3 separate regions of the Homo sapiens genome follow, and regions 1 and 2 are each linked to region 3. The links come from fine-mapping of genetic effects on gene expression. A gene starts in region 3. Each other region holds a variant in brackets. All regions are shown on one strand. Distances are between the middles of the regions.

The links.
Region 1: its variant is fine-mapped to the expression of PROM1 in tibial artery (GTEx, PIP above 0.99).
Region 2: its variant is fine-mapped to the expression of PROM1 in transverse colon (GTEx, PIP 0.93).

The regions. Positions count from the first base shown.
Region 1 is chr4:16,028,189-16,038,681 of GRCh38, reverse strand. It overlaps PROM1 (prominin 1), which reads left to right. Exons shown (of 28, transcript NM_006017.3): 4 at 2,921-2,947; 5 at 5,173-5,378. Among named protein-coding and RNA genes, the nearest start is that of PROM1, 51 kb to the left of the region's middle. The variant T/G (reference allele first, on the strand shown) is at 4,510.
Region 2 is chr4:16,153,976-16,164,468 of GRCh38, reverse strand. TAPT1 (transmembrane anterior posterior transformation 1) reads left to right here. Exons shown (of 14, transcript NM_153365.3): 14 at 932-3,964. The coding sequence ends at 1,161. Among named protein-coding and RNA genes, the nearest start is that of TAPT1, 67 kb to the left of the region's middle. The variant G/A (reference allele first, on the strand shown) is at 5,818.
Region 3 is chr4:16,078,014-16,088,506 of GRCh38, reverse strand. It overlaps PROM1 (prominin 1), which reads left to right and starts at 4,484. Exons shown (of 28, transcript NM_006017.3): 1 at 4,484-4,529. RefSeq lists an enhancer at 9,209-9,298.

The DNA.
Region 1 (10,493 bases), 50 kb after region 3:
CGCCTGTAATCCCAGCACTTTGGTAGGCTGAGGCGGGCAGATCACCAGGTCAGGAGTCTGAGACCAGCCTGGCCAATATGGTGAAACTCCATCCCTACTAAAAATACAAAAATTAGCCGGGCGTGGTGGCACTCGCCTGTAGTCCCAAGTATTCGGGAGGCTGAGGCAGGAGAATCGCTTGAACCCAGGAGGCAGAGGTTGCAGTGAGCCGAGATGGTGCCATTGTACTCCAGCCTGGGTGACAGAGTGAGACTCCATCTCAAAATAAATAAACAAATAAATAAATAAAAACTAAAATTTCTTCAAAAAGAAATATTACGCTACTTTTCTTTTAGCTGAGGGATGAGAACTCCCTCATTAAGTAGAATTGTTTGAAAATTCCTAGAGATGGTGACTGTGTACTCTGTTATAAAACATCGTTTGTTAAAAAGTAGCTTTGCATTTGTATAAGGTTTATGAAGCTCCTGCTGTGTGAGGACATGGCTAGAAATGAAGGAAGGTGGAGATAAGGATGATAGCCTTTGGTCTCAAGAGGCTAGAAGACAGATAGCAGGGACCTTATCTAGTTAATGTAACAAGGATCATACAAGGGCAGAGCCGGTGGGATGGGTGGGCGCTCTTCTCACATTCCAGGCTTCAGAACATGTGAGCAAAGAGGTCAAGGTATGAAAGAAGCAGGCCCCTGGCCAGAGGGAGAGAAAAAAAGGTAAGTTGGGGCCTGATCCTGGGAGGGCCTTGAACGCCTCTCTTGAGTGAATCCATAGTATTTTCAGAAAGTATCAAGGCTCCTTGCATTTTTCTGCTTATTACCCAAGTTGCTGCCAATGCACTCCTCTGCGACTGCCTACCTAAACAGGAGAATGGTCTTTCGATTTTGGTGTGTTATGACTGTAGGTTGCCCATGAAGCAAACAGACAAAAGTGTGTAGCACTGAATGTAAGGTAATAAAAATTAGTTAAATGTGTTGGCCAGGTTCTCAGTCCTTCTCGGTAAGTAAAGCACTTTGTTCCTTCCTTTCCTGGTTTGAAGGCGGTTATCGGGCTACCAGTAAGCAGATGTATAGGTGGACGTTTTTTACTGGCCTGCACAACAAATCTGAATGCTAGTGTTTCCGGCATGGGAGAAGGCAGTTCCCTTTTGCCCAGTGAATCGTTACCTCAGATACGGTAGTTACAAATGGCCTCATCATATTCTTAACTTGCAAGAAAATTATACTCAAGAGAAAAGTAAATGCAGAAGAGGAAAGCCTTATCTAGAGGCTGTTTACATTCAGCAAGGGAAGACTGTGTGGAAGATGAACTGAGCTGTTCCCAGGGCTCACAGCCTTCCCCAGCACCGTGGAAAGCATTTTCATTCCTCAGTGCCACAGGCTTCATTTATATCTCCCAATGTGATTGTCACGTCGGCCTGTATCTCTGGGGGGAAGAAAATGACAGTTGCTTTTATATTTATATTCAAAATTAGCATAACATGCTTAGCCAGCCCGAATGCCAACCAAGGAATGAGAGTAGGGGCAGTGCTTCAGTGGGATCCGGGACTTGGAGAACGAGGTCCTGAGACCCTTAGGTGGCCTTGAGGAACCTGTGAGTCTGAGCTGGAGCTGGGCTGCCACCGTCCCTGGCAGGGTCTTTGTGCTTGACTTGGTATTAGATTTGGCACTCCCATAACCTTGGTTTATACCCCTGGCTCCTGCTCTCTTTCCTTGCCTTTGCAAATGAATAAAAACTCTGGGTGGGGGTGCAGTGGAGAGAAGATGCAGAACTGAGCCCACATGAATGAGCTGATTCCTACTCTAGATGTGGAACTGGACCATGCTTTCTACCATTATCCAAAGAAAGAGGTTAATTAAACAAAGGCACCAAAGGATCCAGGCCACATCTAGAGGAGGGCTTTCTGACTAGATTTAGTCTGATAAAGGCTGAGTGTGTTGGGTTGGTTCCCCCTGAAGCAGACCCTACACCAATGACTCCAGGGCAAGTCGTTTATTTGGGAGGCTCAGGGAACACAGATTCCTGGTCTTACCCATATCTTCTGACTCATGTGCTGTAGCAGAGGAGCCCAGGAGTCAATGTTTTTCTTTAACACACACTGTGAGGTGCTTCTTTGTGTCTGGTGAGCTTGGGAGCTTGTGCCCTGGTTGGTAACAAGCCTGCGTGCCCCTTCCCCAAGAAAGGGAGACCGGGATCATTTAAAATGCCCTGTGTGACCCCAGAGGCAGGTATATCTGAACTGCCCCCCAGTCCCAGTATTTTGGATGCCTCATTTAAAAGTGATTCCCATCACAAATGGTGTTCCCTCAGAGCTGTGAAGATCTGCCAGCTGAGGCAATAGTTTCTACACTTTTAGATTTCCTGGACCAGAATATTTCAAAAAAGTGATCTAGAAAATGACATAGAGCCACCTAATTTTATTTTGCCACGAAAGGACATTTAAAATCAAACATTGAGATGTTTGGAATAAAAATGGTGGGAATCCGTTGATCGCTTTAAGCATGGGAATAACACCATCAGATTTTTATTTTAGAAAAGGGCACTTGGGAAGATGCTGCCGTTGGTTCTGGAGTTCTCAGATCTGATTCTCTATTTTATGAAGATCACATGGTTAGTGTGTTAAGCATTTGTAACTTCCCCTCTAATTCTCCTTTGCGTAACCGATTAGCATACGGATTAAGAACCTTTTGGGAAATCCAAATGTAAATGCAAATGTAAATTTCAGAACTCAGAGCAACTTAAAACACTGTTTCTTGAATTCACACTCAAGTTTTATATTCCTTTCTCATGTTTATCCTTCTATCACCCAATTTCCTCCTTGTGGGATATGAATGTTCTTGGTTATGGTTGATCACTCATAACTTTTTCTGTCTGTTTTCTTGATGCATGCTGCCTCTGCCAAAATTCCTCACCTGCGTTGACTTCTACAGCCAGAAACTGTAATCTTAGGTCTAAAGGTAAAGTCCTTGTCTGCTATTTCAAGTTGCTCTTGGAAAGCCTTTCTGTTCTTCACTGTCATCCTCACTGTGAAGATTTTTAAATGATCCGTTTCATTTCTGTTTTTACCATCACTTTTAACCTTCTCTTTGAAGAAAGATATCTCTGTAATATTTACATGTTGATCTTCAACACAATCAACAAAGCACTGGAAGATCTTGGTGTATCAAAAAACAGTTTAAGTAGTGACAGGCCTTCGTCTAGTCGGCCTAGAAGTGAACTCTTGAAATGCCGTATCTTGTTCCTGATACTGCCTGATATTTAGTCAGTAACATTAGAAAGGCTGTGTTATCAAATGTACAATTTGTATTTAAAGCTAAAATTAGTGCATTTAAAACATTTCAATATATCTTCTCTCCTGGGTTTTGGTTCAGTGTCTCCTGGAATTCAGATAGAATTTACATTTCTTTAAAATAGTAAACAATTTAGAATATTTGCTGAGAAATGATGGAAAAATACGTAAGTAAGAGTTTGGAATGTCTGGGCTGGTTTCTTAACTGACAAGTGGTATTGGTCCTCGAGGAAGGGTTAAGTCCCCTAATAATGCCTCTTCGTGGACATGGGATGGGGGTTAGCTTAAGCGTGAGCACATACTTGATGAACCCAGCAAGATTCAGCCACTCTTTTTTTTAAGCAATTTAATCTTAATATGGAAGTAGATAATATTCAAGTGCCAGATGCACCAGATTTACTAGTCTTGAGCATTTGCTCATAGAGTTAACTACCATTTATTGAATATCTACTGTGTGCTGGGCACTTGGCTAGTTGTTTTCACATTCAGTCATTTAGTTATTTGTCCCTCACAATATGTTTATGAAGTTAATGCTAATGTGACACCATCCACTTTAGGGACCTGGAAGCCCCCTGCTGGGATGTAAAGCAGGTCTCTCCTCCAAGACATCACATTTGCTCCCAGGAACAAGACTCGTGTTTTATTTTCCTTTGCTCAGCTTGGCTTCAGAATTCGCAGCTGTCTAGATTGTCCATTTAGTTGCAAACTGCCAACTTGCAATTTTCTGCCATTCTTTAGAAATATAAGCAGCTACATGCATGAATTGGAATGACATCAAGTTTCATCATCTAGTTGCATTAATTTTCGTTTATCCCGGAATAAAGTCAGCAGTGATTATGAAAATATGTTTAGGTCACATGATTGTATCTAGAAATTGTGCTGTTCCTAGGAACTCAGGAACCGTCTGAGACACGGACTGCCAAGGTCGGTCCTTCACTGTGGATCTGGCTCCTGGGCATGGCATGAGAGGCACCTTTAGTAAGTGTCTACTCAGTGCTTGGTCCTTTGTCACATTATTTCTAATCATGCGTTATCTCTAATTTTCACAATGACTTGACAAGGTACGTATTATTATTTCCAGTGTATCAGAGGAGGAACCTTGTGACTGGCCTGTGTTTAACGTGCCTGACTTAGAGTCTGAGCCTTTTTTCTAAATTAAGATACATTCCAGATTCTTGAGTAATTGTTTGCCAGCCAATCCAAAGTGCTTTGAATCTTTAACTTCTATTT[T/G]TGCAGTGTGCAAAGCGCCTTATATGTAGATTGTTATGCAAGTACTCCTGCCAAGATTTATTGATCCATTTAAAAACAAACAAAATACCTTTGGGGTTAAAATTAAACCATTTGCAGCTCAAACTAGCATTTAGACATCTTCCTAGGGGTTGAAAGACATCTTCCAGTAACCACTTGGCCATGTATTTAATTACTCAATTCTCTGCTTCCTCTGTTTCAAAAAGGAGTTTCAAAATGGAAAAAAATACATACATATATATATATATATATGTACACATTCAGATTCAACTAATGATGGCAGATAGGTTAAAAAAATGAAACATGGCCAGGTGCGGTGGCTTACACCTGTAATCCCAGCACTTTGGGAGGCTGAGGCAGGTAGATTGCTTGAGGCCAGGAGTTCAAGACCAGCCTGGACAACATGGTGAAACCCTGTCTCTACTAAAAATACAGTACTCGGGAGGCTGAGGCCCAAGAATCGCTTGAACCCAGGAGGCAGAGGTTGCAGTGAGCCGAAATCGCGCCACTGCGCTCCAGCCTGGGCAACAGAGCGAGACCCTGTCTCAAAAAAAAAAAAAAAAAAAAAGAACTTTGTACACCATGGAATGTTCTACTTATTATTTTGTGCTACAATATGTGCTGTTTCTTTTGTTTGAATTGCAGATTGTCTACTATGAAGCAGGGATTATTCTATGCTGTGTCCTGGGGCTGCTGTTTATTATTCTGATGCCTCTGGTGGGGTATTTCTTTTGTATGTGTCGTTGCTGTAACAAATGTGGTGGAGAAATGCACCAGCGACAGAAGGAAAATGGGCCCTTCCTGAGGAAATGCTTTGCAATCTCCCTGTTGGTGATTTGTATAATAATAAGGCAAGTACAATATTGGACAACAACTGATTGTGTTTTAGGCTGATGAAGAGTGTCTCACATTTTTATGGTTAAACCATGAGTTTAAAACTAAACAAAATAGCAACAATGAAAAAAAAACCCACCAAACAGAAAAGAGAGAGCACAAGCGCTTGTCTAGAGTGATTCGAAAGGATCTCATTATCATCAGACATTAGCGTTGTAATGAAGCTGCCCCAGCTGAGCTGATGAGCCAGCCCTTTGGTATTTTTTTCCTCTTGAAGGTATCCTGAGAAATCTTGGACTGCAGAAAGGACTTACCTCCCAGCACAGCAGACTCCTCTTAATTAGCTATTTGCAGGCAGGCAGCATGCAGAAAAGAGAGATGGATCTGCAAGTTGATTTGCTAGTTGAGTCCAAAGGAATCTTGATGGACTGATGCAGTCCCTGAATTTGGAAATTTGAAAATATTGTAGAATGCAATTGACTTTCTAATAATAAACTCATTTTTCTTTTATGTGCTGTTAATCCGCTACCCTCCCTTAAGTCTGGAACACACTTCACGATTTAGGGTATTTCTGCTGCAGTGTCTGCTGCTTTCAAAAGTTTTCCAGTTGACTGGCAGATCAGAAATACATTGCTTTTAAGATGACGTTTTTTCGAGTCCAAATTAGATTGCTCATCTGAAGATGAGTGCGCCACAGCAGTGTTCCCTTGTTATGTTGCTTGGTTATTGTTCCACATTTCCTCATTCATTCCGCCACTGTTTCATGCAGCAGCAGAAATCAATGTGCCTATGACATGAAGGCACAGCAAGGGTTGGCCAACAGCATTCTCTTTGTTGTTTCTCCAAACACCACACGTGCTCAGTAGCCGTAAGATTTTTTTCAAGTTTTACTAAGGAAGTGATATTCAGGAATTTTAACAGAAAACAGTAAGTCCTGTGAGTTGGAGTTCTAGCTGCAAACCCAAGAAGGAAAGCCTTTAAGTGTGGCCACCAGCAGGGGTCTGATAAGATGTGTATGGCTTAGGGTGACCACTCATTGGAATGCAGTGTACCCATTGAAGAGGACTGGGCAGCTCTGGATTTGTTGATACCAGTCACCATGACAGATGAAGTGAAAAAGCAGGTTGCAGACCATGTGTAGAACATGGTAACTATGTTAAAAAAAAAAAAGATCAGGAAGGAGACACAAGCACTGGGTCATATTTTTATAGAGCAGATGGGATGTGAAAGGGTTGACAAGAAACTGGCAACAGTGGTTGCCTCTGGAAAGGAAATTGAGGGTTGTGGAGGGGAAGGAAGGAAACTCATTTCTTGCTGTAGCTGGGCTTTTTGTCTCTTTTGATTATGTACCAGGCTCGGGTATTACCTATTGAATTAACTTAACTGAAACTTGAACAGTGACAAAAAAAATCTTCACAACAGACAAAGGCCAATGCATTACCACTTACTCCAGGGCAGTGACTATTTAAGCAAAGACATACTTTTGCTCATAATAGTGGAATAATCGACCTTAACTATATATGTGTGTAAACAAGATCCAAGTGAATGTGTTAGCTGACTTCATGCATTGTTGGTTAGCCTGAGAGTTACTTGTTTTGTCTCCATGACATTGGGGTGTGGGCATCTCTGCCTGTCAATCTCTCTCTCCCTCTCTCTCTCTCTTTTCTTCCCTTTTCTGTCTCTCCTTGCCTCTCTGTATTTTTCTGTCACTGTCTGTCTCTTTCTCTGTGTCTCCAAAAATCATTTGATCCTTGCTATTTTTTTCACATTTGATTTTGAGAGGCAGTTTGGGATCAGGTCAGTAGTGGTCATTCCAAATGTCCCTGTCTCTCTCTGCTTTGTATTTGATATACTCTAAGGAATGCACAGACTCCTAGTTATAGGGGTAGTTACCTCTTTTTCAGCTACCAGAAGAATCTCGGTTACAGCCCTGAAACCTGTCAAACCCACCAGGGATCCCTGGTGTGTTTCCTGTAAGCCTGAAACTTACACGCCACATTTGTCTAGACACTTGCACAGCCATGTTTACCCGCTCCATACACCCTGGACCTCAAAGATGAGACTCGGATGTGAAAGCATCATCTGAAAATATTGCCCTTAGGGCTTCTAGTTAGAATGATTACTTATTTAACAAGTTAATAATTTTCACTTGATGTCAATACATATAGTATAATTTCAGGAAAATTCTTTATTGAATGTAGTTATTTATTTACCTGAATAAGTGTTTACATGTGTAATAATCGGTTTCCAATATATTGGGTTTCTTTGTTTTTTTGAGACAGAATCTCGCTGTGTCACCCAGGTTGGAGTGCAGTGGCGCTATCACAGCTCACTCCAACCTCCGCCTCCCGGGTTCAAGTCATTCTTGTGCCTCAGCCTTCCTAGTAGCTGGGATTACAAGCATGCGCCACCAGGCCCGGCAGATTTTTGTATTTTTAGTAGAGACGGGGTTTCACCATGTTGGCCAGGCTGGTCTCAAACTCCTGGCCTCAAATGATCTGCCCTCCTCGACCTCCCAAAGTGCTAGGATTACAGGTGTGAGCCACCGTGCCTAGCCACTACAATGGGTTTCTTTTTCAAAATTGAACTTTTATTTGCATTACATATAGTTATGTGTTATGCATGTTATAGTTCACTCTCAGCTGATTGAGTTATTTACATTATGTTGAAAATGCCAAAATATATCAACAATAAAGCTACAAAGTAAAAAATAAACTTGGCTTCCATTTATATATAAAATGAAAGCTACCGTTTTGTTAATTCTTGAGAACTCAGACCTATCAAATCAATATATGTTTTTTCTAAGTATATTTTAATTTAGAAAATTCTTTTTAAAAATGCATGCTGTGATTCTATACCCTCCTACACATTCAGTTAAAACAATTTTTTTCCCCACCCAAGTAAAACATTAATGTGAAAATTGTAATTTTAGATTTCAATATAATTAAACCAAAATTGATCAACTGAGATTGTGACAAAACTAAAACTAATTTGATTTCATATAGCACATTGAATTTATGTATAAATTATAAATAGGCTTAAATAAGAGTAGTGTGTGAATTTTTTTTTCTCACTTTAAATTCTGATGAGAATTTAAGCTTCTTTGCCTTGAACTTTTTGATTTACGGTAGCTATTTTAATGGCTTCCTTTTGAAACCCCCACTGGTTTGCAAATACCTTAAACATCATGAGTTGCATAATACCTACATATTGTTTGCAAGTAATCCAAGCTAGGCAGGAGGATTAAAGACCTGGGGAAAGTTAAGATTTCTCTATTATGAGTAGTTAGACAGGAGAAGAAAGAATGTCAACAAAATCAGAAGATTAGATAAAAATAAGAAGGACAAGAATGTCAACAAAATTGGAAGGCAGAAAGGGAAAGAAAGGAAGTGGAGGGAAAGATAGGAGAGTGGACTCTCTCTTGTTTAATGCAGGGCCTCTAGCTGACATTGACTTCAGCGGAGATGGGACACTATTGAGAAATAATCTTTGCATGTGATTTTTAAAAAATTCTTTCAGAAACCCAGAGCAGTCCACCTGCCTTTTATTGGACTCAATTTCATTTTGTGGCTCAAAATATTACAATTAAATGCAGTTGGTTTTCAAGTTAGTTTTGAGCATCCTTTTTTATTTTAAAAAATGTAAATCTTTTCTTTAGGGGGTGAAGGGAAGACATAGGTGTTAAGGAGAAAGATGCCCTAGCAGATGTGCAATCTACGTGGGCATGTTCTTTCTCTGAGGGTTCCCAGAGGCAGCTGTGGAATGTGAGAATTCCGTAGACACTGACATATGTTTATGCAGTCTGTTTGACCATCAGCACAAGATCGAATTTCCACCCCTCACTGTAGACTGTTAAGCAGATGTGTCTTACTCCAGAAAAAGCCAACTTTCTTCTCCTTTCTTTCTTTTTGCTTGTCACCGCTGCATTTCTCATAAAGGTTATGGAAGGAAAAAAAAAAACCATGACTTGACTTCCTTTGTATGTTTCTAAGTTTCTGAGTATGATAAGCCAGTCTTGCTAATAATTCCCATGGTGAATTGAATTCCAGTCATTTTCAGGAAGCTGGCTATTTTCAAAGTTCATTTTATACTAGGACGTGATTGCCAATTCCTGAATGGGAGGCTACAAGGTTGTGGAAAAAAGATTGAGCTAGATGTAGCAGTCCTGAAAATCATGAAACTTTCTTCATGTGAATGAGGTCTGGTTACTTACAGTTTAAATGTAATTTTTCTGTTTTTTAATAAGAGAGCTGTTATAGACTGAAAGCATTTGTTTGGCTTTCTTTGGCTAATTTTATTAAATCAGTAGAAATTGGTAAGAGCAATACAGTTACAAGTTTTAAAGTAAAGGTTTAAAAGTAAGGTTTAGCCTTACTCTGTAAAAAGCTTGTAAGTGTATATGTGAGAAAATTGTTTTTTCCATAATAAAATATGGAAGATGTAAGGCCATAAAAATAAAAATTCCTATCTTCTGCTAAAAATTCTAAGAGATTTTGTTGTACTGCTTAAAAGCATATGTTTTAGATTGTTTAAAGGCATTTATGTCAAATGCCAGAGAACTGATATTCACTGAAATATGATTTCCTTTTTGTGTTAGGTAAATGTCTCTTGGTATCATTGTATTCTAATAATTGACTGGAGGTTGTTCAAATAAAAATATTTATTCACATACCTTTTTTTTGCTAAAAAATACACTGAACAACAGGGAGTGTCTAAATCAATACCTCAAAGCATAATTTCTTTGTTCTTTATTTGTGTTTGAATAGAAGGTTTAAATTTGAGATTGCACATGGAGACCATCAGTTGGTCTGCATAGTATTTAAATTTTTTTTGTTAGTTGCTAATATTTAAAAATTGGGATATTTCACATAAGAATCCAGATTCCCAGATTTTTGTGGATAATGGGAAGATACGGTAATATTTATCTGCCATCATGGTGGTGCTTTTGAGACCTGCAGATTTAGCTGCTCCTCCAGCCCATTTTTGATCTCCCAGCTCCCATGACCCCCTGCTACCCAATTTTTCTTTAATGCTTTCTGCCTGCTTACACAGGCATTAGAATTTAAATACAAAATTTACTTTGTGCATTAGTTTGAAAATCAGCTTTGAAAATCACTAACTTCTACTCTATA
Region 2 (10,493 bases), 76 kb before region 3:
ACGACCTGAGTGTTTGCTCAGAATGTCTTGGAGGTCAGGAGAACACAGACTGGAGAACATGCAGGAGGGTGTTGAAGTCAAGCTAAAGAGAGGGAGGGGGCTGTCTCTCAAAGCTGCATCAGATTCATCACGTTGTAAAAGAGACAAAAGACAGCGGTTCTGGGGGTGAGGGCAGGAGAGAGGGATTACTACAAGAGAGCTGGATGTGTCATTACCTCCATCATGGCAGTAGTGTGACCAGGTGTATGCACATGTCAGAACTCATCAGATTATACATTTTAAATGTGTACAGCTGATGGTGTGTCTTTTTTGCCTCAAAGAAGCTGTTCTTACATGGATTGAATGTATGATTCAGATGAGTCTCTCCAGGCCCCAGCCCAGCTGTCCCCAAAGCCAGGCTCCAGGATCTCTGTGGCCTAAAATGAACATTGGGGGTTTTGTTTATTTGTTTGTTTGTTTTTAACCTCTGGTTTGGACTTCCCAGAGATGATGATGCTAAACCATCTGTAGCTGAAGTGACTACAGATGACAGGTGGAATGTAGTAAAGTCTTCTTGGCCCACTCCCTGATGTTCTGTATTGGAGCAAGTGTTAATGTTTCAGGACTGCCAACAGTCATGTTAGGTCTTGATTATATAGAGAGGAGCCGTAATGTAGGAGTTGTGATCTTTCTGCAGTTGGGTGATGGCATTGTTTGTGTGATACGAGCAATGTAATGTACCCTTCCATAAAGTTGAACAAACAGATGATTAGCCTCTAAGTTTTATTATAAATGATGGCTGCTTATACAACATGCTATTTGGTTATCATTTGCTTTATCGGAAAGCATGGATAATGGGCACTTTTTTCAGCACCACTGTATTGGTAAGTTTGTATTTATTAATAATTGGAGAAAAGTCTTTCTCTAATTTAATGGATCTATTTTATCACAGGCCTTTCCACAGAAGAAAACCTGTCTGCCTCCATCACCAAACAACCTATTCATCAAAAGGAAAATATCATACCATTACTTGTGACAAGCAATTCTGATCAGTTTTTGACAACTCCAGATGGTGACGAGAAGGACATAACGCAGGACAATTCTGAATTAAAACACAGATCCTCAAAGAAAGATTTGTTAGAGATAGACAGGTTCACAATTTGTGGAAACCGAATTGACTGAATCTGTGGCTTCATGCGCTGAAGAAGCTGGGTCCTGGGGCAACAAGTGCTGTGTTGCCAGGACAAATAGATGCTAAACATGGCACTTAAATATTTATTTAAAAACTTAAATTATTATTGGCAAGCAAATCTTAGTATCTTTCTTCCAGTAATATGGCCTGGCTGAGGGTCAGACCACAGGACAGGAGCGACCTCCGGCCTTGACTGTCTGGGAAGCTTGATGGATTATAAAACTTCCTCCTGCCTGGCCAAGCAGCAGCATCATTTCCAGGACCCAACAAAGGCAACATCAAAATCTGTTTTGCTTTGTCAGTCTGGGCTTCCAGAATGTTGAATTTGCCTCAAGGCCTCTTCAGTATAAGGAAATACCTGGAAAACTGTGAAACTTTTACCACGACGTAATCTTTCCAGTCTCATACTATTTTCACAAACAGTTTTCAAACGTTACTTCATCTGCCAAAGCATTAAAAAAATTAAACATAAGTCAAGATAAATGTTCTTACCACCAGAATAACCCTTAAAGATGTATCTTAATTAATCAGAATAAAAGGCTACCTTAAATAAGACATGATGAATAGTAGCATTTTGTAGGGTTAAAAAAAAATGCTAAACTAGTTTATTTATTAAAAAAATAATTAATGAAGGCTATGCATTACTGGGAAAAATCCTTCATAATTTTTCAGTTTACTCTTTAAAGCAAAATGTGAGCTGTATGTCATTTAATTGGTGGATAAAACAAATTTCCTTACAAAAGGGCACTTTTTACACCAAGGAAGCAGAGCAGTGTTAACTTTAAGGTATACTTAACTGATTTTGCTTTAAAACTAATTACTTCATAAATTATTACAGCTAAAAGGATTCGATGTTGAACAGGCTGAAAAATTGTCAATGTACAAAATTCAAAACTGTCAACTTTAACTGTAAAGTAAATGCTCCAAGTGTGTTAGACAGCATCATCTTGCTTGGGCTTACCAAATGCATTAGTCTTTGTGTTTGGGTCGACAGCGAGTGTGCCTGTGCTGGGGCAGGGTGTGTGTTCTGTGGGAGGGTGTCTGTGGGGATGTGACTATCAGGGTGGGCCTGTGCTGGGGATGGGGCAGGCCTGGGTCTGGAGAGGATTTTGTGTGAAAGTAAATGGGGTGTTTGAGGCGTATGGGTGGCTGTTGGTGTGGGGAGGCATCTGTGTATGGCTGTTGGGAACAGCAACCAAAAGGTGCTTTTTGGTTTTATTTGAGATGAAGATTGTGTTTCCGCTTAATTACTAGTTTGTGGTCTATATCATAGAAGTTATTTCCCACCCCATTTTATCTTGACAACCGTGTTTGCATTTCTGTAAAACTTCTACAACTTCTGGTGTCAGAACTGTCCAGAAGATGGTACTGTTAACTGTTATTTCCTTTGATGTTTTGATTTTGAAGTTTAGCTCTCATGCAAATGTTTCAGGCGTACATACATAGGCAGAAAGCAATTTTTAGGTGATTTGTCTGTTTCTTGGATGAAATATAAAGCAAGCTTTAATGTTCTGACTTGTTCATTTGAAATACAAAAAAGTAAGTGAATTTTAATGTTTTGCATTAACTAAAGAAATCTGAAGATTAATGTTGAGGAAATTGTATGGACATGCCTTTGTGAAACCAGGAAGTATTTTAAGTTAAAAATGAAAAAGGTTTTAATTGCTTTGTGTGTGTTTTAATGGAGCCCCATTTTAGAATTATTTTTTCCATCTCCCTTTACCAACAAAAGGAACAATGCCACCGTGAATGGAATAGTTTGGGGAAAGCTTTGCCAAACACAACCCTGATTTCAGAGCAGGAACATGGTTTGGATAGATCTTCAGTTCCGCTTGAATTATTCTGTTACTGCGCTGTCATTTTCAGAAGATTTCCATTCCTTTGCAGATGCTGTTGGGAGTTCGGGATTATGTTCATTTCTTCTGTTTTAATGGCATTCAGTACTAATTTTATAAGTGCATCTTGTGTGAATCTCAATAAATTCAGTTTTGTAATCTTTTTTAAAAAGGTCACTGAATTTATTTTAATATTTACTATTGTATTTGGTAGAGTGAATTTCCCACTGTATAATAAGTATTTATTTGTAATTCACAAGTGATAGAGCTATCTTAATTTGAATTATTGCTTTGGTCTTAATGGTGGCAAAATGTTTAATTTTGTCTTTGGAAAAAATAGGCTCGGCCTTGATTATAGACCATTTAATATTTCTCAGCAAATGAAGGTATTTGCATTTTACAAGTGTTTTGAATGTCACACAAAATATTTTTCACATCTGGGAGTCAAGTTCAAGACAGTGCTTTGGTTTTAAAAAAATCTAATGAAGGCACAGGATAGGCCAGACCCTTATTAGGTTTTCCTTTAGAATAAGTGTAAAGACCAAGTGTCACTGATACGCTTGTCCAGATTTTCTTGTGGACTTTGGCCAGTATTTAGAGTTTATATTCATGTTACATAAAGTGAAAGAAACTTGCTATAATTAGGCCATCAAAATATATCCTGCCACTCCTGGTAACTCAGCAGAGGAGGAGATAAATTTACAAAATAATGTAATATCTCTACATTGTTACATGTTTTCAACTATTTTTTATCAACAAAGATTTGTTAATCACTTCCTATGTGTCAGAAACTGTTCTAAGTGGTGGGATCAGCAATGAGCAAGATAAGTCCCTGTTCGTCTGTGGAAGACTGATAGGAACAAGTCGATGAAATAATGTCTGCTGGTCACAGAGTGTCCACTGACCAAATGATCTCTCAGGCTTATTTCAGCTCTAAAATATAGTTCTTTAAAACGTTTGTGTAAGTCTGATTTTTTTCCTATTGGATTAGCTTGAAATAAGATAATTGTATAGCAATTTTACAGTGCTTCTATAAAATAGAAATAAGAAAAGACTTTCTCCCTGAAGACTGCTAGTTGTCCAGCAGAATCCATTCTCCTGTTCCATTGTGTAGAGTTGTAGCTGGGCATGTGCTGCTTGCTGGGGACTGCATTTCTCAGCCCCTCTTGCTGTTACCTGTAGCCAGCTGACTCATTCTCCCAGGGGATGTAAGTTGAAGGGTGTATTCCGCTATTGGGCCAGGACCCTTAAGACCATGGGTGAGTCCCCCTCACCTCCTCTGTCCCCTTCCCACAGGTGGAACCCAGAGAAGGTAGTGACCTTGTCCCAGTAGGTGCCCATCATGGCAGAGCCATGAGAGAGAAGGAACCTGGGTCCCTGAATGCCGCTGTGGAGCAGAGTTGCTGGTCAGCTTGGAAAATTCCGCTTGACTATACATAAGAGAGAAACTTTTGAAATGCCATTGTTTCTAAGCCACTGAACCTGGAGGTTCTGTGTTCTGTTCATGAAGTTTAGCCCACATTAGTACATTAGGAAATCTGAGAGGGACTATTTAGAGATCTTTACATAAAAGGAGCAAGGAGTTAGACCTATCTTGCTAAAACACATTCTTCTGAAAATTCTCTCTGGATACTCATTATTTATTATTTATATGGAAAAAGATAAAGATTACTCCACCCCACTTTTTCAGAGGTCAGACTCTCAGCACCCTTGGCTGTCTTGAACTGAACATTAAACTTGCCCATAAGTGGCAAAGTTCTATTTGTCCATATACTCTATCAAATAGACATTTCTTGCCCTTTATCTCAGAAAAGTGTGTATAGTAAAAGAGTAAAGTGTAAGTAGAGCTTAACAGCAAGGAGAAGTAGAAGCAAGAGGAGTTAATCAAGAGAGCAGTAAAAATATACCTGACGTCAGTGATGCCATGCCTGTGATTGCCAATAAACTGTGTTACAGGTCAATGTGATGTGTGGTATGCAGTAAGTGAGATCTAGGATGATTTAGATTGTGTTCATTACATACTATTAAGGATTGTGTTTGATACAAATTAAGGTTCGTACAATTGAGGGGAAGTTGTTCAGAAAAAAATGGCGTTCTCAGGGACCTTGAGTTATCTGAAAAGTTTGCTTATAGGGAGGAACTATTGCTTAGCAGTGCTGAGCAAACAAGGCATTGCTGTTCTAAATTTTATTAAGAGAGTAAATGTATCAGCAAGTTGGCAAAAGGCACAGTTATGCATAGTGTAGTAAAGTTGTATTTGAGGTTTTTGATATTTAATGACAAGGTAGGTATCAATACAATATGTTTTGCTTATTTATATGTTTTGTTTCTTGGGTTTTCTTGTTTGTTTTTTGTTTTTGGCTTATAAGGAAACCAAGGGAGGTCTTGAAGGCCCCTTTGGCCTCTTTTTAGAGGTATTAGCTCAGGGACTACAGAATGAATGAGCTCTTGCAGTGTGAATAATCTTCGAAGTGGATGGTTAATTTTGAAACTGCAATTATTTTCAATAAGCACATTCTCATTCCATTTTTAATATGTCAACATAAGAATGTAAATACTGGGAAGATTAGAAATCGCCATAATGTCAGGTTTAACCAGATAAGTGAAATGTATAACAAGGAAAAGGCATAAAAAGCTTGTTGGACTTACTTTCACAGATATTAATTGCACTCACTGAGCAGAGCACAGAAATGAAGGAGCTGTGCTTTCTGCCCATGGGGCTTAACTGTAATCTGACAGTGAAAAGTCCAAGATTCTTAGCAAGGCACTAAAGACTGGGGGGCTGACCCGGCAATTACAGCCCTGTGTGAT[G/A]AGTACCACCATAAACCACGCCTCTGGCTGCAGCAAAACATTCAACCACATTCACTGCTGTAGCCCTTGCACCTCGTTCCTGGCACACACAGGCAGGCAATAAACATTTATTGGATGAAGAAAACATAGGGGCCATTGCAGAAGGTGTGCACTTGGGCCGCCTTGAAACAAGTAGGAATTAGATGGATAAGAAGGGAGAGGAAGGGCAAGGCACGAATGAACAAAAGAGGAAAGAGCACAGCGGAAGCTGCAGCGCAGGTTTCCTTCACTCCCCATTAAGTGCCAGCTGTCTTGCTGGGAAGATGAGGAGGGAAGCTTCCGTCCCATCCCTGGGGAAACGAGATGGAGGATGGAGGCAGGGGCTAGATCTCAAGAGCGCTCTTAATGCCTTGCTAAGAATCTTAGACGGTTAATCCTATAGACAAAGGGTGGAGGAGCTTAAGTGGAATTTTAAGTTGTTGTAATTATCAAATGAGAAATGAAAAAAAAAACTACTTGGTAAACTCTGAAGTGCTATGAACAGATCAATGTTTTAGAAAAGTCAGGGTGGTGTCCTTGTAAAGGATTATTGTGTAATCGCTTTTGTGTTCGTGTGAAAGCAGGGCTAAGCTCATTTTCTACATTCTTCTCATTGAACCTTTATGTCTCTCTAAAGCAGACACTTACCCCATTTTATAAGTAGAAAACTGTGGCTTAGAAAGGTTAAGTAACTTGTTCAGGGTCACACAAGGAGCAAGGAGCACAGCAGAAAGTTAAACCGCCTTCCTGAACTGGAAAACTGGAGCTCTCAAGCTCTCTGCCTTCTGCTATTTACGGAGAAGGGAGAAGCCAGATAAGGAAACCCCTTGAGGGAAGTGCCTGCAGCCACTCACAGCAGAGTGCGAGGACTTCAGGGATGTAGGGTGTACTGAGCTCTGGGATATTTACCCCTCTAAGATACTCTGGAGGGCTAGCCTGCCGTGTGATGTTGCAGTCAAGACCCTTGCTCTGTGCAACACAGCAAACCTCAGTCTCCTCATCTGCAAATCAGGGTTGAGAATATCCACTTCTCAGGGTTGTGAAGAGCAAATCAGATAATGCATCTGAAACTGTTTGTGAAGGCAACACACATGTCTAAGCTATGATGACGCAGCCCACATCAGTGATCCCCACAGTGTGGTCCCTGGGCCAGTGGCATCACATCACCTGGGAACAGACCAGAAATGCAGATCCCTGGGCCCTGCCCAGATGTGCTGAATCAGAAACTTCAGGGGTGGAGCTGGACAATGTTTGTTTGTTTAGACAGAGCCTTTGTTTTTTGAGACGGAGTCTCGCTCTGTCGCCCAGGCTAGAGTGCAGTGGTGCGATCTCAGCTCACTGCAACCTCCGCCTCCCGGGTTCAAGCAATTCTCCTGCCTCAGCCTCCTGAGTAGCTGGGATTACAGGCGTGCGCCACCACGCCAGGCTAATTTTTGTATTTTTAGTAGAGATAGGGTTTCACCATGTTGGCCAGGCTGGTCTCGAACTCCTGACCTCAAGTGATCCACCCACTTCGGCCTCTCAGAGTGGTGGGCTTACAAGTGTGAGCCACTGCGCCCGGCCAGGACAATCTGTTTTAACAGGCCCCTGGGCGAGTCTCCCCACTAAAGTGTGAGAACCGTGGAAAGTCATCATCCTCTAGGATCTAGATTTCAGGGTGATGGGTCCAAAAACTCACCTCTACTTTTTCCAAAGTAAAGATTGGAGAGACTAAAACACGATTTGGGGGCCAGAAGTTCTCTAGCATATGACTACATTCTGTTTAAAATCCATGATTGCTGTCACTCACTCAAGGCCAGGCAGCTAGACAGAGGCAGAGCAGGCTAGGACCAGGGGTTTCTAGATCTTCCTGAAACCCCCGCGCTGCTTCTACCGCATCCTCAGGGCTCCACCCCATCCTCTGGCAATAGTACCTTTCAGACGAGTCCTGCAGAAATCATAGAGCACTCATGATACCAAAGCTTTAATCACCAAGAGTTGGGGAAGGGAGAAAGGATATACAATCCACTAAGTGGCGTGATTCAGCACCAAAGCACCTTGTAGGGGATTCAGTCTGTTTTCACTGAGCATCTCCACCCATCTAGGAGTTGCTGGTGCAGCCAGCAAGGCAGGCACATCCCCTCTCTTTAGAAGCTTATATTCCAGTAGAGAAAACATCATAAAAATGTGAACGGGGCATTTCAGAAGGCGACCTGTGCTACAGAGGTAACAAGGTAAGGTGATAGGGACATGATGCTTTCTTGAAACCACATGGTCAGGGAAAGCCTCTAAAGGTGACATACAAGCAGAGACCTGAACTAAGGGAATGTCATGTGGCAGAGGCCCTCAAGTTCAAAGCTACTGAATTGAGAGGGAACAGAGTGTATCCTAGGAGCAGAAAGAAGTTCATTAGGGCTGGGAAATGAGGACATGGGGGTGGGAATGGGTTGCAGCTTTAATTGGTATGGGAGTGGAAGTCCAGGTCATCCAAGCCCCAGGACCGGAGGAGTTAGGTTACTACTGGTCCAAGGACGAGATAAAGAGTTAGGATATTACTGTCTTCTGCTCTCCGAAAAACGGGTTGCAGGGCAAGTAGCATAAAATCAGAGAGGCTAGCGAAGGGCTGTTTCTGTGATATAAACCAGGCTCAGGCAGGCCTGGACTCATGCCAGGGCAGGGCCAGGAACCCCCAGCCTGGCCTGGCTCTGTCTCCACCTCAGAAGGGCAAAGCAGCAGTAGCCTCTTGCAGGAACCTTAACACTTCCTTTGGCAACACAGACGCAGGACAGAGGATTCTGAACCTAGCTTTACCCATTTGTTTCTTCAATGCTGACACCACCTAGTAGGCAAAGTCAACTTCTATCTAATTGTGTTTCTCATTGGATGATCATGGTGATGAATGGCCTCCAGTTCTGCTACTCTCTGAAATGATGCCCGGGGGAAACAAGAGGGAAGCATCTGTAAGCTCCCCACCGAGCATCTGTAAGCTCCCCACCGAGCAGCAGGAAACAGTTCCACTCTCCCAGTGAGGGAATTGTGCTGAGAACTGGAAATGTTTTTTCCAGTTGACAAGATGAAATTTTTTTGAAGTTCAGATTCTATCCAAAACACAATAGAAAATAAGATGACTTTCCCTTGCAATTATTATGGATATAAATGCACTGTTCATTTCTCTTTCAAAGATGAGTTCGAAGATGACTTAGGTCCTAGGATGATGGGATCTCAGCATTAAAGCAGCTCTGACAAAGCATCTGACCCCTATTCCAGGGCTGCTGTTGTCCTGTACTCCTGAGAAGTTATCAAATAATTTTGTCTTGAAATAAGTGCTGTAGTATTAATAATAATTTTAAAACCAATCCTTTTTTTTTTTTTTTTTTGGAGAAGTCTCACTCTGTCGCCCAGGCTGGAGTACAGTGGCGCAATCTCGGCTCACTGCAACCTCTGCCTCCCGCGTTCAAGCAATTCTCCTTCCTCAGCCTATCAAGTAGCTGGGACTACAGGCACATGCCACCACACCTGGCTAATTTTTGTGTTTTTAGTAGAGACGGGATTTCACCATGTTGGCCAGGCTTGTCTTGAACGCCTGACCTCAAGTGATCCACCTCCTCAGCATCCGAACGTGCTGGGATTACAGGCGTGAGCCACTGCACCCAGCCTAAAACCAATACTTATTAAATATCTACTACAAATCATCATACAAGACCCTTTTAATTCATTACCTTATTTAATTTGCACAATGTCCCTGAAAAGTCCTCATTTTACACATGTGGAAACTGAGGCTCGGGAGGCTCTTTTCTCAACAAAGTCACCCAGCTAGGGAGGAACAGGGCCAGGATTTCAAGCCTGGTCCTTCTGATCCCAGAGTGCCGGCCCGTAACCATCATGCAGCCTATAGGCCTCAGGACAGCCTTCCACAAGAGCTCTTGCAAAATTCTTTTTCTTAAATCATTTTCTAACAAAAGCATGCATACTTAACAGAATTTCCATTCCTCCTGCCCTCCTTTTAGTTCACATTTTCCAGACTTTCATGTGATTCTAATTCTCCATAGATTGGCTTTGCTGAGTGTTATTTTTAGCATTTGGATTATGAATAGATTGTTCTGGTTATCCTGTTTATATTTTATATTGTTGAATCACCTATTTTCTCACTAAGGAATTGTGACAGCGTGAGGTGTATTTATGTGATGCCTGGCACTTTTTTTTCTTTTGTTTTTCAGAGATGTGGTCTCACTGTCACCCAGGCTGGAGTTCTGTGGCTCAACAATAGCTCCACTGCAGCCTTGAACTCCTGGTCTCAAGGGATCCTCCCACCTCAGCCTCCCAAGTATCAGGGACTACAGGCATGTGCCACCATGTACAGATAATTCTTTTCTCTCCTTGACTTCTGATTCCACCCTGCAAGGTGGGCATAGTATGAATGGGGATATCCATGTGCCAACCAGGAAACCAAGGCCCTGGTTTTCCGAGAGTCCAGATGCAGTGCCTGGGCTGGGAAGTGGGACTTCACACCGTAGGCCAGCACAGGGCTTCCAGCACTGCTGTTCTGCCCTGAGGAGGGGACAGTGGGGAGAGTAGCCTGCTTCCTGGCTTAAGCAATGGCGATTAACACACATTTTTAGAGCTTTTATTGTTTCATTCTGTAAGTAATAAGTGGCCACTGTCCTTAGCAAACTAATGCA
Region 3 (10,493 bases):
GTCTTATTTTTTAATCCATTCGCCCACTCTATGTCTTTTGATTGCAGAGTTTAGTCCATTTAATTCAATATTATTATTGATAAGTAAGGACTTACTCCTGCTCTTTATTTGCTTTTTGGTTGTTTTGGGGTCTTCTCTTCCTTCTTTCATTTCTCCCTGTCTGCCTTTTAGCAAAGGTAATTTTCTCTGGTGGTATGATTTAATAGCTTGCTTTTTATTTTTGTGTATTCATTGTGTTTCTTTGACTTGAAGTTCTCGTGAGCCTTGCAAATACTATCTTCTTATAACCCACTATTTTATGTTAGTAATTACTTAACACTGATTACATAAACAAAGAAAACTAATAAGAGCTCTACACCTTAACTTCCTCCCCTTGCTTCTAAACTCTTTGTTGTTTCTCCTTATATTTTATTGTGCTGTCTATGTCTTGACAAGTTGTCGTAGTTATTATTTTTGATTGGTTCATCATTTAGTCTTTCTACTTAAGATAAGAGTAGTTTACACACCACAGTTACAGTGTTATAACATTCGGTGTTTTTCTGTGTACTTACGATTACCAGGGAGTTTTATATCTTCAGATGATTTCTTATTGCTTGTTAACATCCTTTTCTTTCAGATTGAATAACTCCTTGTAGCATTTCTTGTAGGACAGGTCTGGTGTTGATGAAATCCCTCTGCTTTTGTTTGTCTGAGAAAGTCTTTATTTCTCCTTCATGTTTGAAGAATATTTTTGCTGTATATATTATTCTAGGGTAAAAGTTTTTTCCCTCCAGCAGCTTAAGTATGTCACGCCACTCTCTCCTGGGCTGTCAGGTTTCCACTGAATAGTCTGCTGCCAGATGTATTGCAGCTCCATTGTTTGTTAATTCTTTCTTTTCTTTTGCTGCTTTTAGGATCCTTTATCCTAGACCTCTGGGAATTTGATTATTGCATGCCTTGGAGTAGTCATCTTTGGGTTTATCTGCTAGGTGTTCTATACAATTCTTGTATTTGGATATTGATACTTTTCTATAGGTTTGAGTGGTTCTCTGATATTATCCCTTTGAATAATCTTTCTACCCCATCTCTTTCTCGACCTTGTCTTTAAGGCCAGTAACTCTTAGATTTGCTTTTTTAGGTAATTTTCTAGATCTTGTAGGCATGCTTCATTATTTTTTATTCTTTTTTCTTTGTCTTCTCTGACTGTATTTTCTAATAGCCTGTCTTTAAAAGTGCACTATTTCTTCTCCTTAATCAATTCTGCTATTGAAAGACTCTGATGCATTCTTCAGTATGTCAGTTGCATTTTTAAACTTGAGAATTTCTGCTTGATTCTTTAAAATTATTTCAATATCTCTATTAAATTTATCTGATAGAATTCTGAATTCTTTTTCTGTGTTATCTTAATTTTCTCTGAGTTTCTTCAAGATATTGATTTTGAATTCTCTGTCTGAAACATCACATATCTCTATTTCTCCAGGGTTGTTCCCTGGGGACTTATTTAGTTTGTTTGGTGAGGTCATGTTTTCCTGGGTGGTCTGGAAGCTTTTGGATATTCATTGGTGTCTGGGCATTGAAGACCACCCCAAGAGCCTGCTTAGTACTCTACCTCCCTGTGGCTGAGCTGGTACCTAAGGGGAAGGAAAACATCCTCTTTACTTTTCCTTCTGCTTTTGTCAAGCAGAAGGAGTCTCTCACATTAGCCACCACAGTTGGGAATATACTGGGTCTCACCTGAAACCAGCAGATCTCAGAGTCACACCCAAGAACCACAGTGTACTACCTGAGTATTGCTTCTGGCTATTGAGAACCCAAGGGCTCTTTAGCCAACAGGTGATGGGTCCTGCCCAGACTGTTTCTTTCCCTTCAAGGCAGCAGTTTCCCTTCTGGCCCAGGATGTGTCTAGAAATGTTATCCACAAGTTAGGACCTGGGATGGGGGTCTGATGACTCAGACTGATGCCCTGTCCTACTGTGGCTAAACTGATATTCAAGATAACAAAGTCCTCTTTACTCTTCCCCCTCTTCTCTTCAAGCAGAAGGAATGGGTCTCTTCGTGCTGTTTTTAATCACTCCAGCCACTAGCATTGGGACTGATGCAGACACTAAGGATCCAAATGATTATTTTTGTTTTGTTTTTTTAACTGCATTGGGATTAGGCAACAGAAGGGTCTAATGTGGCTGAGAGTTTTTGAGAGAGGAGCATTTTTAGGAGGGTAGCTGCATTCCAAGTAGAGAGCTCTGCTGGGGTAAAAGAGGCATGAGTGCTAGAAAAGGGCATGCAGTGATGAAGAGCCACTAACAGCACTACCTGGGGTTGGGGTAGGGGTGTCACAAGCACTCCCTTAGCTCCCCTGTCTGGTGTCTCAGTAAGTCGCATGCCCTCCAAGTCTACTGGCTCTGAGCTCAGCATTTGGGCTTGCTTAGGAGTTGCTGTCCTTGTGGCCTAGGCTGCCTTTAAGGTTATTTGGGGCCCCAGAGCACTTTACTGAAACTCAAGTTTTCACCACTGGTATGGGCTATTTCCTCTGAGGGAAATTGGCTGAGTTCAGCCTAGTTTTGCTTTCTGCTATGACAGAGCAGTACTGAGTTCAATTCAAAGTCTCCCAATCACTGCACTCTCCCTTTCCCAAGCCACAAGGCTGCTGCTGCTGGGGGATGGAGGACTGGCGGCATTGGCAAATCAAAACTGTCTTTCCTGGCTTCTTCAGTGCCTCTTTCAGTAATATGAAATTAAAACCAGGTATTGTGGTTACTCACCTGATTTTTGGTTCTTATAAAGGTGCTTTTTGTGTGTGTAGATAGCAGTTAAATTGTGTTCCTAGCCGGGGTGGGGGGTGGGTGGTCAAACCTTCTATTTGACCATCTTGCTTCACCCCTTTCTACTGATACTATTGTTGTTGATATTATTAGGAATGAAAATGAGCCCTGTGAGTTATAATTGTCTTCATTTTGCAGACCAGGAAACTGAGGCTCAGAGAAATATTAAGCAGCCAAAGTCACAGCGATTAAAAGAGGCGGGACCAAACTTTGACGGAGATCAGGACCCACTCCTTTGAGAAATCACCTCTTTTGCTAGCTCCAGCCTAAAAGTGCTATCTAGGAGAAGGTTTATGGGACCCCAGCAGATGTTCAACCAGAAACTTCTGACCTGCAGGGGCTGCAGAGGGGAAATCTGCCCTGATTAGAAGAGATTTGTTTTCCACCCATATTAGTTTGATCTCACATTGCTATAAAGAACTACCTGAGACTGGGTTTCAGAGGCTGTACCGTAGGCATGGCCAGAGAGGCTTCAGGAAACTTACAATTATGGTGGAAGAAGGGAAAGCAAGCACATCTTCACATGGCAGAAGGAGAGACAGAGCGAGCAAAGGGGAAGTGCCACACACTTTTAAATCATCAGATATCCTGAGAACTCACTCACTATCATGAGAACAGCAAGGGAGAAATCCGCCCTCATAATCCAATCACCTCCCACTAGGTCCCTCTCCCAGTGAATTATAATTCAATATGAGATTTGGATGGGGACACAGAGCCAAACCATCTAACCTTGCCATGTCCTACTGTACTTTTTGGAAGTTTTCTGAACTAACATTTCTTGTCTAGAAATATACACACTCAAGATCAATCTAACTATTAAAAACAAAAAATGCTTATTTTCCAGTACCTGTTTTATGTTAGATTCTGGGGTAAAAAGAAAAAGGTACTGACTTAATGTTCCTGTCTATCATTCATTTGTAGCTTGTGCATCCATCCTTTCATCTGTCTATCCATATCACAAACATGTATTAAACACCTGCTGTATGCTAGACACCATCCTGAAGGTGCATTTCTTCCCTAAGTCTTTTTTTTGCCTGCCGGAGAGTACAGTATTCTCAATTCAAGATAAGAAGTGGTGAATAAGAGTGAAGTGCAAATTGGTGAGGACACTTAGACACCGAGTGATTACTTCTGACAGGTTTCCACCACTCAGCTAAGTAGCAAGGTGAAGACTCCGAGGTTGAGTTGTAACTCACAGAGCGGGAAGACCAATAGGCAGTGAGAAAAGAAGTTGCAGTGGCTTCACGTTATAGCAGATGCCTGTGTGTACACATGGGAGCGAATATGGCTTTATGCTGTTTTTCAACCGCTTCAGCCACTAGCATTGGTACTGCTGCACACTAAGGATCCAAATGATTGTTTTTTTGTTTTTTGTTTTGTTTTGTTTTGTTTTGTTTTGTTTTAAATTGCATTGGGATTAGGCAACAGAAGGGTCTAATGCGGCCGGGATGAGACAGGAGAGTTTTTAGGAGGGTAGCTGCATTCTAAGTAAGGGACTCTGCGGGGGGAAAAGAGGCGCAAGCGTTGCAAGAAGGGAGTGCAGGGGGTTGAGCAGGCACCTCTACAGGAAATGGATGCTGTCCAGGTGCTGGTGGGCGCCCCAGGGCTACGTGGCGAAGCAGCTCAGCCGGTCCAATCAGAGTGCGTCCAGGGCTCGGGTTTCGCGATCTTTAAGTGACTGAGGCAGATCCCCACGCGGCACCTGGCCATGCTCTCAGCTCTCCCGCCGCGGTGAGTATGTTTAAGGAATCCTTTCCATTACGGCGGCCCCATACCTAGGTCCCCGTCCGGGACAGAGGAAGCCGCAACGGGTCCCCCCGGGCACCCGGGCCTTTCTCCTGCCTCCCGCCACGTCCGAGGGTCCGGCCGCAGCGCCGCCTGAGCCCCTCCGCGGCCGGCAGTGGGAGGCGGGCTCTCCGAAAGCCGTCGCGGTGGTCCCAGAAGCCGGGTCATAAATAATTCACGAGCCAGGGTCTGGCGAGCTAAGGGAAGGGCGGCGGCAGCGGTGACTAGGGCGGGAGCAGGAGCGGGAGCCGGGTGCACGGTGAGTAGCTGGGTCCTCATCCCGGAGCGAGAGAGGCATCTGCTGACCAGGCGCGGGGCTGAGCGCACTCCTTCCACTGTACTGGGGGTGTACAGTGAGGAGTGGACGGGTTCGCTCTGCGCCCCCCTTACCCTAGCCATCTGCGCCGCCTCCCTGGCCCCTCAGCAGGTGGTGCGGGCCCGGACAGCGGCTGGGGGCCAGAGGAACTGCGGGGAGAGCGTGGTGGTGCCGGTGCCCGTCCAACCCAAACTTTTTAGTCTGAGTGGTGGCCCGCGACGCCCCGCTTGGGTCTTCTTTCCATCCACTGGGGATGGGGGCGGGGGTGGGGGTAGCCGGCGGCCGTGGTTCCGGAGCGGGAGTCGGAGGTGAGTGTGCGAACTGGACCGGGGCCCCAGAGACTTCGGACTCGCTCTCGGGGAGAACGGTGACCGAGGTGAGACTCGCCAGGGTCTTGGGAACGAGTCTGCGGTAAAGGAAACTCTAGGGATGGCCCCGGGGACGTGAGGCGCTGAGCTTCCCTGGCTGAGTGCGGAAATGGGCCAACACTGTGCAGCCGACCACAGCGGGAGTAGGGATATGGGGGTACAAAGCGAGGCCATCTCCCCGCGTCCGTGGGAGAAAGCATGCACCCCTGGCTTGAAGCACCTTCCCAGCCTCTCGCTCCACGGCCCTTCTGCTTGCATGCGCGGGGACCCGCGGCTATCGCTAGATGGAGAACTGGGGTGCTCAAGGCGCACCCTGCCAGAACACGCCGACCGGACAACAAAGAGGAGCGTGGACAGACCAGGAGCTTCACGGCTGTAGAAAGTCAGAGGCTCGGGATCAGTTTCCCCGAAAGCCCGTGTCTGGAGGGGCAGGGAGTCGGATCGGAGGGAGGAACTAGCTCCAGAACCCCTTCTCTCTGGCAAGATCGCCCCCGATCGGTGCCCAACAGGGGCCGCGGCGGGGAACTGGCGCCGACGCGCTCAGAGCAGCCAAGTTACTCCGGCAACCCCCTCCCCTGCGCGGCTGCGAATTCCTGGAGTCTCTTGGCTTCCCGCGCCCGCCCCGCCGCTCATTCTTTTGTGTCCCGCAGCTCGCGAGAGGCTTCCGCCCAGAAGGGAGCTAGGCCTGGAGGGGGCTTGGCCTGGAGGTGGTTTGGAGGTAAAGGGCGGGGAAGCCGGCGCCCCAGGCTTCATTCTGCAACAGGTTGCTCCTGGAGCCCGCTAAGGCGACTGACCTTTCTGGAGAAAGGTTTGCTGGAGTTCCTGAGGGCGGCAGCTGTTCTTTGTTAAGAAAGCAAGTGCACGATCGTAGTTCTTGAGTGCCCCCCGAGACTCATGCGACACGAACAACCGCTGCGATATGTTGGGTTGAATCATAAGAAATTGTCGGTTTTTTGGATGGAAGATGTGAATATCGTCAACCTCATATGATTCAACTTGTGTGATGTTACTCATTTTTCTTTTCTCACCGTCCTTTCTGTCCCGGTTATCCTAGGAGCCCCGGTGGAGTTGAGCTCAGAGTATTGATGCTAGCAGAAGCAGACAGACCCCAGATAGCCTTCCAGCTGCGTGCCAGGTGCTTTACCTATTAGATCGCTAGCCTGCGAACCCTATGCGAAATCCTCCTTTGACAGAGGAGCAGAAGAAGGGTTGGAGAATTCAAACAACTGTCATCTTGGCAGAGTTAGTAAGGGGGACCAGAGCCCCCTTACTGTTGCTGTTGTCTGTCTATTCAGCAGTGCCCTTTAGTTTATTCTTGTTTTTTTTTTCATGTGTTCCATAATTTTTTTCTAAACTTCCTTCTGATTTCTAAACTTTTCTAAACTTCTTTCTGATTTCTAAACTTCCTTCTGATTTTTATACGAGACAGTTTCTTTGTGTTTTAGTACAATGAGGTGAACAAATGCATCAGAGGACAAGCTGAAAACTTTAAACCAAGTTGGTACTGTTTAAAATATAAAGGAAATAGGTTTTTCAGGGAGCAAAGAGCTATTTCTGAGATTTGTTAAGGGTCAAGATACTTTGTTAAAACAGTGGAAGCTGAGTCGGGGGTAATTTTTATCAGATAAAGGACTTCTTGGATTCTGTAAGTTGCCTGTTCACTCTGATGGTAGTTTCTTTTGCTCTGCAGAAGCTCTTTAGTTTAATTAGATCCCATTTGTCAATTTTGGCTTTTGTTGCCATTGCTTTTGGTGTTTTAGACATGAAGTCCTTGCCCATGCCTATGTCCTGAATGGTATTGCCTAGGTTTTCTTCTAGGGTTTTTATGGTTTTAGGTCTAACATTTAAGTTTTTAATCCATCTTGAATTAATTTTTGTATAAGGTGTAAGGAAGGGATCCAGTTTCAGCTTTCTACATATGGCTAGCCAGGTTTCCCAGCACCGTTTGTTGGGAATTGAACAATGAAAACACTTGGACACAGGAAGGGGAACATCACACACCGGGGCCTGTTGTCAGGTGGCGGGAGTGGGGAGGGATAGCATTAGGACATATACCTAATGTAAATGACGAGTTAATAGGTGCAGCACACCGACATGGCACATGTATACACATGTAACAAACATGCACATTGTGCACATGTACCCTAGAACTTAAAGTATAATAAAAAAATATATATACATATACATATATATATGTATATGTATATATATAAAAGGACTTCTTGAAAGGATGGTCCCTGGGTGGCTTAGGTAAGTGGCAGCAAGGCTGGCTAGCCAGGCTTAGGAATCTAGGACATGCCACAGGACCCCTGATGGGTGGGTGGCTGCGGCTGCCAGAACAGGACCCTGGATGTGGCTACTGGCATTGCTGCCATCATTGCTGGAATGAATTAGATACTGTCCTGCTTCAGAGTGCGCAGGCCCAGGCCCAGAAGAAAGCTTCTGATTGGCCCAGCATGGCTCAGCTCCACCAGGACACAGTTTGGGCGCCTCAGCTGACCTCACAATGCAAGGCAGGGCTGCCTCCCACCCAGCTCACAAACGTGGTCTCAGATGTTGGGTATCCCCCATGCCCCCGCCAAAAGCACTCCAGATGACAAAAATCCACTACAAAGCTCTTCTTTAAAAAGAAAGATTCTGAGAAGTTCCATCAAAAGAAGAAAAGAAGAAATGAAGGTGATTGATCACCATATTTGCTTTTTCATTTTTAATTTTTTTTTTTGAGATGGAGTCTCTGTCACCCAGGCTGGAGTGCAGTGGCATGATCTCAGGTCACTGCAACCTCCGCCTCCCGGGTTCAAGTGATTCTCCTGCCTCAGCCTCCCGAGTAGCTGGGACTACAGGTGTGCACCACCACACCTGGCTAATTTTTTTTGTATTTTTAGTAGAGACAGGGTTTCACCATGTTAGCCAGGATGGTCTCGATCTCCTGACCTCGTGATCCGCCCGCCTCGGCCTCCCAAAATGCTGGGATTACAGGCTTGAGCCACCACGCCCGGGCCATATTTGCTTTTAAACCAGTATTGAAATGCAGTTCTCTGGACTCCAGGCTCAAAATCATGTAAGGTCGCCCAGGCTGGAGTGCAGTGGTATGATTATGGCTCACTACAGGCTCAGCTTCCTGGACTCAAGTAATCCTCCTGCTTCAGACTTCCGAGTAGCTGGGACTACAGTTGTGCACCACTACGTTTGCTAATTTAAATTTTTTTTTTTTTTTTTTTTTTTTTTGTAGAGACAGGGCCTCTCTATGTTGCCCAGGCTGGTAGCAATTCTTCATTGAGTACCAACTGTGTTCCAGGCTCTGGGGATACAGAAATAAGCCAGGGACCTGCACAGCAGCTGGGGTAGATCAATTCAAAGCAATATGAAAAGGGCATTTGGGGAGCTTTCACCTTACATGTGTTATTTTCCAATGTGTTTGGGAAGCCTGAAGTGTCCTTGGAAAGTGACATGAATTGACTAGGCGGGTACTCCAGGATCAGAGTACTCCAGGAACAGAACTGTTCTCAAACTTTGTTTGAAGGATCAGTCCCCAGGAAAGCTTGTTAAAAATGCAGATTAATGGGTTTCATCCCAGAAATTAGGTCCATTAATAGTCTGCATTTCAACTAAACACCCCATTTTATCCCGAGACAGATGCTACTCTCAGTGGCTCTCGGACCTAGTGGGGTTTAGCTGGTAAATACTCAGAGCTTCTGTTTTTGGCACAACCTATTAAACCCGAGATAAAAAACTCTTCCTCTTTGACTTGACTTTAATCAGTTTCTAGTATTTCATAGTTAGTGAGATATTAATACTTTCTTAAAATGTACTTTAAAACTTCAGAGGGACCTACATTTTGGAGCAAGATGTAAAGAAATCTGGAAGTGCAACTGCAGTTGCTGTCTATCTCAAGTCATTGTCTCCCATCTTTGCTGCGGTGAGCAGTTATGTTTCACTTCACTGGGAATTTCCCTTCCCCTGCTTTGTCACTGAGGGAGTTGGAGAGCCTGTTTGTTCATAGTTCTTCCCTTGGCAGTTTCTCTCTGTCCTGGGCTGAGGTTTGGTGGAATTACCAGAAAGTGGGCCTTCTCAGCATCTGAGCCTTTAATCCTTCCAGCTGCTGTGCTGGAGGCTTAGCTCTCTGCCTGTCCTTTAGCAAAAAAAAAAACCAAGATAAAGTGTACATGTGGTGTGTTGTGCTTGCAGTAGATGTTTGAAGGGAGCCCTTTGGAAACACCAGGGTCAAGGTGTCTATTGTGGATGTGACGGTGGGCGTAACCTGAAGCGTGGGCCTGAGGTTAGTACTGGCAGCCACTTGGGATCTGAGCAGCCCATGATTTGACAAAGGAAGAATTTGGGGCCCTTGTATTGGTAGCTTTGTGCAGGAGTAATTGGAGTGGGACAGGACTTAGAAGATGAGGCAATGGAGGGATTAGATATGAATTAACATCTTTGTTCAAATAGCTCAAGAAATCCCATCTGTTGTCCAAAGCTTTCTTTGACTTGGAATATTGGTAGTGGGTCCTCTGGCTTCTTGCAAAGTATGTCACCTTCTTCATCATCCCCCTTCCCTTTCTTACAGTATGTGTTTCAGGAGCACCCTGTACTTATCTTGAAAGTTAGTAAGTATGTATCTAGCTCACAAAGTGACAGCAGCTTGCTCTTGCTCCAGGACACTTAATACAGAGAGGAAGAGTGGTACACTTGGGATCCTTCCAGGTTCTGTGCTGATTTGCCTAGTCTCATGAAACCGCACAAGGAAATAACATATTTTGGCTTCTACGCCAGCACTTGCCCTGTAGCTCTGGAGCAGGCTGTGTTTGGTTTCCACCCACCTACCTGGATTAGGCTGAAGGCCCTGCTCTAAAGCTTTGCAGCCTCCTGTCTGGGGCACTTCTTGCTGCAGGCAGGTTACATGCATTGGTGACTCTGCTGCTATTTCTTTCCCTGCCAGGGATGGTGCCATGAGTGAAACAAGCTGCTCAGCAGGCACTTACTAAACACCGACTACGTGCCATGCCCAGTGTTAAGGTCTGGGGATTGAAAGAAGAGTAGGACAGAGTCCATCTTGGAGGCACTTTCTGTCCCATTCCCTTCCCAGATGCTGGAGCCACAGCTGCTTTTAGGATTCTTGTGTCTTTCTCCGTCTCCCAAGGGGTAGGTAAGAGTCTCCCTCTGCCCTGGCTTTCATCTCTGAGACCCCTAGTTGTAGAGGTGGTGACTTAGGGTGAAGATTTCCATCAG